3 linked regions of the Homo sapiens genome follow. The protein of the gene in region 1 interacts with the protein of each later gene in a pairwise test. Each region holds a gene or a part of one and is shown in the gene's direction. Other genes may lie near its edges. The genes, in order: IGF2BP2, RBM3 and HSCB.

Region 1 (3,739 bases):
GTATGTGCAAGTGTGTGTATATGTTTTTTGTTGGGGACAGTTTCAGGTAGATGGTATGAAGAGGCAGCAGGAGATCTTTAATTGAACAACAGTTGCTCTGGAATTCAGTCTTGACAAGGCTCAAGAAAGTTGCTTGGTGATTGAAACCTGTGGCAAAGGGAATCCAGTGCAGTGATATTTGCCTTGAGTGATGAATAACTCTTGTAGGTGGTTAACCTTGTGAAAGCCAAGTCACAGGTACCTGGAGTAGGTTTTACAGTGAGCATGCTACTGAAAGGACCATCAGTGCAGCATCTTCCCTCCTTCCTTTTCACTTGGCTATCCCCTGTCACAAAAGATTCTGTGAAGGCTTTGATGATGTTATAAGCCATTTTTTTAAGTGTCAGAAAATTCAAGATTTGAATATGCACTTCCATTTAGAAATTCTATACTTTGAAAAGCAATATGGTATTTTGCATAACACAAGTGCTCTCAGTGAGTAAACTTCATTAGAAGAAGCGTTATATTGAAATAGTTTCTTTGGAGACTTAAAAATGTTGAATTATACATTTCAAAATATATTTTTAAAAATTATATTTAAACATCACAAAAGTCTTCAGTGTTCTTTTCAGTGTTAGAAATTAGTGGGCTTGGCTAAGCTAATTTTTAAAGAGTTCATGCTCTAAAACTTTCAGTCAAAAGCATTATCTCTCAAAAGCTATGATTAACTTCTTAAATTGAGAGATGGGAGTGTTCTGTTTAACAAAACATGCCCCCAGAATTTATTAGTAAAGTTTTATCCTTCTTATATTCAAATTCATGTTCAAATTATTTTGGGTATTCATTCAAAAGCAGTATCATTGAACAAATAATAGCAAATAAACAGCAAACACCTACCAATGAAGATAAGTCTTTCCTCCCATTTATCATCACCATTAAAACATTTTAAATCTTTTACTTTATAATTTGACTTCATGCTTACAAACTTATAATTTTCATTTGGTGGCATGGACTCTATGGGTTCTATTTTAGGCAGCAAAATTGCAGAGTGCTCAGAGCATTATTTTTAAGGTTTTACTTTTCCTGTTTTGATCATGGACTTTAGTCTGGTCTCTCCATAAAATAGTGAAGAAAAATTATTTTCTTTTGTAGAAAACTTCAGATTCTGTTGCTTGGCTGCCAAAGGGAAGAAGGAATACAATAATTATTTCTTTAATTTGGTTTAGAGTTTGATGGTATATTGAGATAGAATAAGTACAACAGTGAAAATGGATGCTTTTGCATTAATAGGAGGCATTCAAGCCCAAAAGCTAGCCCTGTTCCATCATTTGATAGTTATGTCTCCTCCCCAAGCCTCTGCTTTTCACTAAATAATATCTGTATTTTTGAGATACATTTTGTTTATTCCTCATTATTTATCTGTTCTACACTTTATTTCTTAAAATGTGAACATTCAGATAGGATTTTCCCATTCTGTTTAGTGTCAAGGACATTTCATAAATAAAGCAGATATTTTAATAAGTCTGATAAATGAAAATTAAGAGTTCTGATGTATGTTTTGAGCTTTCTCTTATTTACCCATATCAAAATAAATGTTGCATCTAATGACCAGAAAAATTTGTATGGGAACATTGCAATAAGAATTATATTTTCAGTTTTTCTTATTGTCATGTAATTAATGTGTCTCAAAGTAAGGATTTGCTGTAGTGGGAAGCTTGAATTTTTAAATTTTTGTTTTAAATGTGATCAGAAAGGTTGATGATTTCATGTATTGATATTTAAACAATGGTAGTAGTATTATCTCAGGGAGGAGTATTTTTTGCCTGCATCTTAATATTCATACAGTACTGATGCTGTTCCAGCCTCTTTGACACATTATTTCATTTATTCCAAATAATAATTTTGTGAAAAATAGGACAATTGATACTATCTCTTTTTTTGGATGAGGAAACTCAGCCCCAGACAAGCTTAATAATTTGTTTAGGCCACATGACTGTTAATTAAGTAGTAGGGCTAGAACCCAGGTCTTTTGAGGTCCCTGAGTCTCGCTCCACTGTACTTCCTCCCCATTTAACGTTTTACATTAAAGAAGTCAGCTGAATGTGTTGTAAAGTTCGAAGAATGCTGTTCGAGGGTGGTAGAAATATATGAAAATACATTTGTGAATTGAACCTTTGCAATGATGCTACATCAGTCTGAGTGATCTGTACTTTGCTATAGTTTTTAGAAAAAAATAGTTAGAAATAGAGGTAATTTTAAAGGTAGCATTGCACGTCTTCCCATCTCTGTGCTTGCCCACAGACAGAAGTGGGGAATATACCTAAGCAGGTTGTGGGGTTGTTGTTGTTGTTATGTTGCTTTTTTCGGCAGTTGTGTTCCTGACATAACAAGACAAACATTTCTTTCAACATCTGAGCCACACAGATTAGACAGCGAACTGTCACCCGGGTCAAGACTATGTGCCATGTGGTGAATGAAAGTCTAGCTCAAGGAATCTCCTGGGTGGGTTCTTCACGGGGTTCAGACAGCCTGTTGCAAAGGTCAGGGCTGTGTTGTGGTTTACGTGTTTCCCTGGTAGGAACTGCCAGGTCTTTCCCAGAGGTGGTATCTTTCTCTACGTCACTTTCTGTACTGAATAAGGCCTTGGGCCTCTCATACTGTCTTGACTATGGGGTGAGTGTTAATAGGGATAGTATCCATAAAGTTCTGAGTTCTTTATTAATTTTATAATCGCACAAAAAAATATGCTAAATAATGAAGCATGTGAAGTACAGTTCATTTCCCCTCAACTGTAAACTTTTCCTGCATTTATCTTCGTTTCCTTTAACTCTTATGGACTGTTTATGGTGCTGGTGGGAGGGAGAGAGGAATTATCAAGGAAAAAAAAATAGGTGAAAGAAGGTTATTTCCAACTCCCCATGCATTTCTTTGAGTTAGTACAGTCCAGAGTGGGATATGGCATTTTCCGTGGAATTCTGACTCAGGAGATGGGGGAGAGGAAGAGAGTTAACTAATACTGGGTGGCTGCTACGTGCTAGGCACTGGACTAGGCTTCCTGTTTTATCCTCCCCACAGCCTGAAGAGATCCGTCTTTATCCTTCTTACACAAAGGGCTCTAAAGCTTCAGACTCTAAAATAACTCCTTGCTCCTGACCAGAACTTCAGAAGGCAGTGGCTTGTTGTCCATCTCATTTGAATACTGCAACAGAACCTTAGCAATGAAGTAGAAAGTTGTGATAATATGTATACAGGCTATAAAGTAACTTTGTATATTATTCCTAACTTAGAATAAGAGAAAATTTCCATATATAAAACCTATGCTGAGAAAGATTAGGAACTCAAGTTCAGTATATTTTTAATTTAATATAATTGAAAAGAATTAAAAGTGTTAGTCATAATTTGAAAGAACTTCCTTGAAGTAGTCCTATAGTAGAAGCATTTATAATTATATAAAGAGAAAGAGGTTTTTTTAAAAATCATTGTGGTTGACAGTTAAGTGTAAAAAACATACATGTATGCAGTGTGGGAGGAGGGCCTGTTCCATGCCTTTGACCCAGATATATATATTTTTTCAAATCCTGAAAAAAAACTTGAGGTTTTTTTGTTTAGGATACAGAATGTTGCACAAAGATTGGCATGCTTTCATTTTTATATGTATTTTTAAAAATATCTGTGTCTTAGAGAAGGAAAATAATGGAATTTTTGTAAATTGCTTTTTAGAAAATGGTTCACCTTATTAACAGAACATTTTAAACCTCTT
Region 2 (2,815 bases), on another chromosome or scaffold:
TTTCAGCCTTATGCCATTTTACATTTTCTGTGGAGGGTTAGGTTAATTGGCATATAAAGCCACTGAGAAGAGTTGGCAAAGCTCTCAGTCACGGGGATTTGATCTTTTTTGGTGTGTGTGTGTCTTGGGTGGTAAAGTGGTAATTTTGTAATTCTAGCTGGTCTTAGTTCCTCAGTTCTGCTCCCTTTAGTCATGGTTCTTTCTAGTGGCTGTATTGAGGCCCCATGGGTGTTATCCCTCCATTGGTTCTAGTTTGGAACAGAAAAATCTGTTGTATTCATGGCTTTCACCTGGCTAATACTGAGCTAAGTTACCACCAGGTTGCAAACTCCAGGACATTATTGTCCTGAGCTGCCTATTCCCTTGCTGGTGCGTTGTGGAACCCTGTATTATTAGTTCCAGTCCTGGAGGCCTGCCTCCTGAGTTTCCCAGCTAGTTGGGACAGGCCCCAATATCCCTTCTTCCTGTAACCCAAACAGTCATGAATTTGCTTTGGCAGGTGGATGGAGACTTGGGAACTTCCACCTCACCCACTAAGCCAGGCCCAGGCTATGGGGCATTGTGGCTAACCCCACCAGGTGGATACTTGGTCTGAGGACGCATCTTATTCTGGGCCTTTAGGGAGCTAAGGCAGTGAGAATTGGCAGGAGGACTGCTGTGAATGCCTTGTAGGTCGGGGGATTGGAGGGGGTCCTCTGCTCCCTGTCTCTCAGGATGGCAATGTACCTCTCACCCCCAGTGTCAGCTGAGGTAGGATCCATAATCAGTAATATTCCTGCAACAAAATGTTCCTAAGTGGAATCAATGAAGACCAAAATTTATTTGTATAACAACTCTAAACCTGCTCTGCTCTGCTGTGTTTACAATGTGCTTTGTGATCATCCAGCCCAGGGAGTCCCAGTCTCTGGCTGTCTATCTGCTCTAAGGAAGAGAGCCCACAGTTCTCTATAGTGCCATAGTCTGTGATGAATAAAGTTCCAGATTTGAGGTCAACCCCCGACCACCCTTAAAGTGCTTGTTGGTCTCCTACTTTGGTTTGTCTTCAGCATCCAACTGATGCACATTTGTCAAGAACCCACTGAGGCTAGAAACCCCCCAAACACTCAAGGTACCTTGAGAACATGTATCCCAAGACCTGCAAAGACCAAACACATGGCCTGTAACTACTTTTCACTTTCAAGCCCTGGAACTTGTCTGTACCAAAAATCTTTCTGAACCATTCACCAAATCTCTTGTCAAGGGCCAGAATAAATTAAGAGATTGGCTTTTGGTTTTCAATTAGGCTTTCAAGTCCTAAGCCCAACCCCTCCTATCCCACCTAGGCAGAAATCACTTCAGATCCTTGCTTCCTAGTTTAATTTCTTCTCTGCCTCAGTTATAACATCCATAAAATGGAAATAATAATACCCACCTCACACAGGGGTTAGGAGTGTTTTTTTGTTGGTTTTTTTCCAGACAGGGTCTCACTCTGTCTCCCAGGCTGGAGTGCAGTGGCACAATCTCGGCTCACTGTACCCTCCGCCTCCCAGGTTCAAGCAGTTCTCATGCCTCAGCCTCCCAAGTAGCTGGGATTACAGGTGCCTGCCACCACGCCCGGCTAATTTTTGTATTAATAGAGACAGGGTTTCACCGTGTTGGGCAGGCTGGTCCTGAACTCCTGACCTCAAGTGATCCACCCGCCTCGGCCTCCCAAAGTGCTGGGATTACAGGCGTGAGCCACCACACCTGGCCTAGGAGTTAAGAGTATTAAATGTTAAGAACAGACCAAGTCCATCAAACAGCTCCACACCCTTGTTCCATGTTCTGGATTGGGGAGTTGTGGGGGTGGAGGTGTAGAACTTTTAAAAAGCTTCTTAAAATAAGTTGCTGTGAATACTTCAGGTATATAAAAAAACATTGGTTGACAATAAGCCAGTGTTCTGCCATTCTTACCTGCTTATCAAGACAAAACCTGCTCAAGTCCCTGCCCAGCTGCATTCCAAGTGTTTTCAAGTTTGGTGGTAAGACCTGACCTGAGGCTTCTTATAACCTTTACTCAGTGGGAATATGCATACAGTTCACTACAGAAATATTTGTATTTACTTAGAGGAAGTGCCCTGGATCTGGGGGCGGGGGGGGGCGGGGGGAATGGGTCTTTTCTAAATTGTTAAAAGCAGTTCATGCCATTATTCTTAATAAACATTTCTAATATGCTGTGAAAGAGTATATTCGTTTTTTTAATGCATATATCCATTTACTCATTGTTCCCATGAAAGAGCCTTGTATGCAAACCTCCAAATGCCGAAGGAGCCAAGAAACAAGGCAGACAAAAATTGTTAGTAAAGGGTTCTTTACTGGGGGGACTTAGAAGCATGACGTGGGGACGGGCGCAGTGGCTCACACCTGTCATCCCAACACTTTGGGAAGCCGAGGTGGGTGGATCACCTGATGTCAGGAGTTTGAGACCAGCCTGGCCAACATGATGAAACCCCGTCTCTACTAAATACAAAAATTAATCGAGTGTAGTGGCGCACACCAAGTAATCCCAGCTTCTTGGGAGGCTGAGGCACAAGAATGGCTTGAACCCGGGAGGTGGAGATTGCAGTGAGCCCAGATCGTGCCACTGCACTCCAGCCTGAGCGACAGAGCACAACTGTCTCAAAAATAAGCATGGCCTTGGGTGGCAGCAAGATAACCATGCTGTTGCTCTTCAACCCACGGCTTACATACCATAGGGAAAGAGTGTGCTCAAGATGAAGGCAACTCCAGAACAGGCATAATACTCTATGCATCATCATCTAATTTGTGCGATAATGTAAAAGTTGACAAGCTCTTT
Region 3 (2,986 bases), on another chromosome or scaffold:
CAAGATCACGCCACTGCACTCCAGCCTGGGCAACAAAGCGAGACTCCCTCTCAAAACAAACAAAAAAAAAACCTGAAGGAGGAATGAAGCTATTCTCAGGCAAATAAAAATTGAAGGAATTTGGGCTGGGCGCGGTGGCTCACACTTGTAATCCCAACACTTTGGGAGGCCGAGGCGGGTGGATCAAGAGATCAAGACCATCCTGGCCAACATGGTGAAACCCCATCTCTACTAAAAATACAAAATTAGCCAGGCGCAGTGGCGCGCCTGTAATCCCAGCTACTAGGGAGGCTGAGGCAGGAGAATCGTTTGAACCTGGGAGGCGGAGGCTGCAGTAAGCCAAGATCACGCCACTGCACTCCAGCCTGGTGACAGAGCAAGACTTTGTCTCAAAAAAAAAAAAAAAAAAAATTGGGCCGGGCATGGTTAATGATGCCTGTAACCCCAGCACTTTGAGAGGCTGAGGCTGGCGGATCACAAGGTCAGGAGATTGAGAATATCCTGGCTAACACAGTGAAACCCTGTCTCTACTAAAAATACAAAAAATTAGCCAGGCCTGGTGGTGACCGTCTGTAGTCCCAGCTACTCGGGAGGCTGAGGCAGGAGAATGGCGTGAACCCGGGAGGCGGAGCTTGCAGTGAGCAGAGATCGCGCCACTGCACTCCAGCCTGTGCAACAGAGCGAGACTCCATCTCAAAAAAAAAAAAAAATTTGTTGACAGGAGACCTGCCACGTAAAAAAAATGTTAAAAGAATTGATTGGCTAGGCGTGGTGGCTCACGCCTGTAATCCCCACATTTTGAGAGGCCAAGGTGGGCGGATCACAAGGTCAGGAGTTCGAGACCAGCCTGACAAACATGGTGGAACCCCGTCTCTACTAAAAATACAAAAAGTAGCCAGGCATGGTGGCGCTCGCCTGTAATCCCAGCTACTCCGAAGGCTGAGGCAGGAGAATGGCTTGATCCCGGAAGTCGGAGGTTGCAGTGAGCCGAGATCACGCCAATGCACTCCAACCTGGGTGACAGAATGAGATGCCATCTCAAAAAAAAAAATTATTTAGAGTGGAGGAAATTTATATAGGTCGGAAACTTGGGTCTACATAACGAAAGGAAGACCATTGGAGAAAGGAATAAGTAAATGCAAAATTAAAACTTATTTTTTAAATTGATCTAACAAAGTGTTTTCAAAATAATAAAAGCAACATTAGACCGGGCGTGGTGGCTCACATCTGTAATCCCAGCACTTTGGGAGGCTGAGGCGGGCGGATCATTTGAGGTCCGGAGTTCGAGACCTGCCTGGCCAACATGGTAAAACCCCATCTCTACTAAAAATACAAAAAAATTAGGGTGGCATGGTGGCGGGCGCCTGTAATCCCAGCTACTCAGGAGGCTGAGGCAGGAAGATCGCTTGAACCCGGGAGACAGATGTTGCAGTGAGCTGAGATCGCACCATTGCACTCCAGCCTGGGCGACAAGAGAAAAACTCCAACTCAAAAAAAAAGGATAGAAATTCTGACACCAGCCGGGCACGGTGGCTCACGCCTGTAATCCCAGCACTTTGGGAGGCTGAGGCGGGTGGGTCATGAGGTGAGGAGATCGAGACCATCCTAGCTAACACGGTGAAACCCCGTCTCTACTAAATATACAAAAAATCAGCCAGGCGTGGTGGCGGGCACCTGTAGTCCCAGCTACTCAGGAGGCTGAGGCAGGAGAATGGCGTGAACCTGGGAGGTGGAGCTTGCAGTGAGTGGAGACCACCTCACTGCACTTCGGCCTGGGTGACACAGGGAGACTCCATCTCAAAAAAAAAAGAAATTCTGACACAGGACCGGGCGCGGTGGCTCACGCCTGTAATCCTAGCAGTTTGGGAGGCCAAGGTCGGCAGATCACAAGGTCAAGAGTTCTAGACCAGCCTGGCCAACATGGTGAAACCCCGTCTCTGAAAAATTAGCTGGGTGTGGTGGCAGATGCCTGTAATCCCAGCTACTCAGGAGGCTGAGGCAGGAGTATCGCTTGAAATTGGAAGGTGGAGTTTGCAGTGAGCCGAGATCGTGTCACTGCACTCCTGACGGCAACAAGAGCGAAACTCCATCTCAAAAACAAACAAACAAAAAAAAATCTGACACAGGCTCCAACATGGATGAACCTTGAGGACATTGTACTATGTGAAATGTCAGTCACAAAAGGACAAATACTATATAATTCCACTTATATGAGGTACCTGTGGTAGTCAGATTCATAGAGAAAGTGGAATGGTGGTTGTGGGGGGATAGAGTCAGGAAGAGGAAAATAGAGAGTTATTTCATAAGTAGAGAGCTTCAGTTTTGCAAGATGAAAAGAGTTCTGTGGAAGGTCAGGCACGGTGGCTCCCACCTGTAATCCCAGCACTTTGAGAGACTGAGGCAGACAGATCATCTCAGGGCAGGAATTTGAGACCAGCCTGACCAACATGGTGAAACCCCGTCTTTACTGCAAATACAAAAATTAGCCAGGTGTGATGATGCATGCCTGTAATCCCAGCTACTTGGGAGTCTGAGGCACAAGAATCACTTGAACCCGGGAGGTGGAGGCTGCAGTGAGCCAAGATCATGCCACTGCATTCCAGCCTGGGCAACAAAGCAAGACTCTATCTCAAAAAAAAAAAGTTATGTGGATGGATGGTGGTGATGCTTGCCCAACAATGTGAATGTACTTAATGTCATTGAACTGTACACTTAGAAATGGCTAACATGATGAATTTTATGTCATGTGTTACCAACTTAATTTTTTTTTTTTTTGAGACTGAGTTTTGCTCTTTCGCCCAGGCTAGAGTACTGTGGCATGATCTCAGCTCACTGCAACCTCAGCCTTTCGGTTTCAAGTGATTCTCCTGCCTCAGCCTCCCAAGTAGCTGTGATTACAGGAGCCTGCCACCACACCCGGCTAATTTTTGTATTTTTAGTAGAGATGGGATTTCACCATGTTGGCCAGGCTGGTCTTGAACTCCTG

What was found.
Region 2: the proteins of IGF2BP2 (region 1) and RBM3 interact in binary tests that used the Homo sapiens proteins (3 or more experiments, as listed by UniProt).
Region 3: the proteins of IGF2BP2 (region 1) and HSCB interact in a two-hybrid assay, tested with the Homo sapiens proteins (one large-scale study listed by IntAct).

The regions. Positions count from the first base shown.
Region 1 is NC_000003.12:185,814,861-185,818,599, reverse strand, and holds part of IGF2BP2 (insulin-like growth factor 2 mRNA-binding protein 2), read left to right. Parts: intron 1-3,739.
Region 2 is NC_000023.11:48,578,963-48,581,777, forward strand, and holds the end of RBM3 (RNA-binding protein 3), read left to right. Parts: 3' UTR 1-2,200; downstream 2,201-2,815. UniProt on the Homo sapiens protein: Cold-inducible mRNA binding protein that enhances global protein synthesis at both physiological and mild hypothermic temperatures. Reduces the relative abundance of microRNAs, when overexpressed.
Region 3 is NC_000022.11:28,752,039-28,755,024, forward strand, and holds part of HSCB (iron-sulfur cluster co-chaperone protein HscB isoform 1 precursor), read left to right. Parts: intron 1-2,986.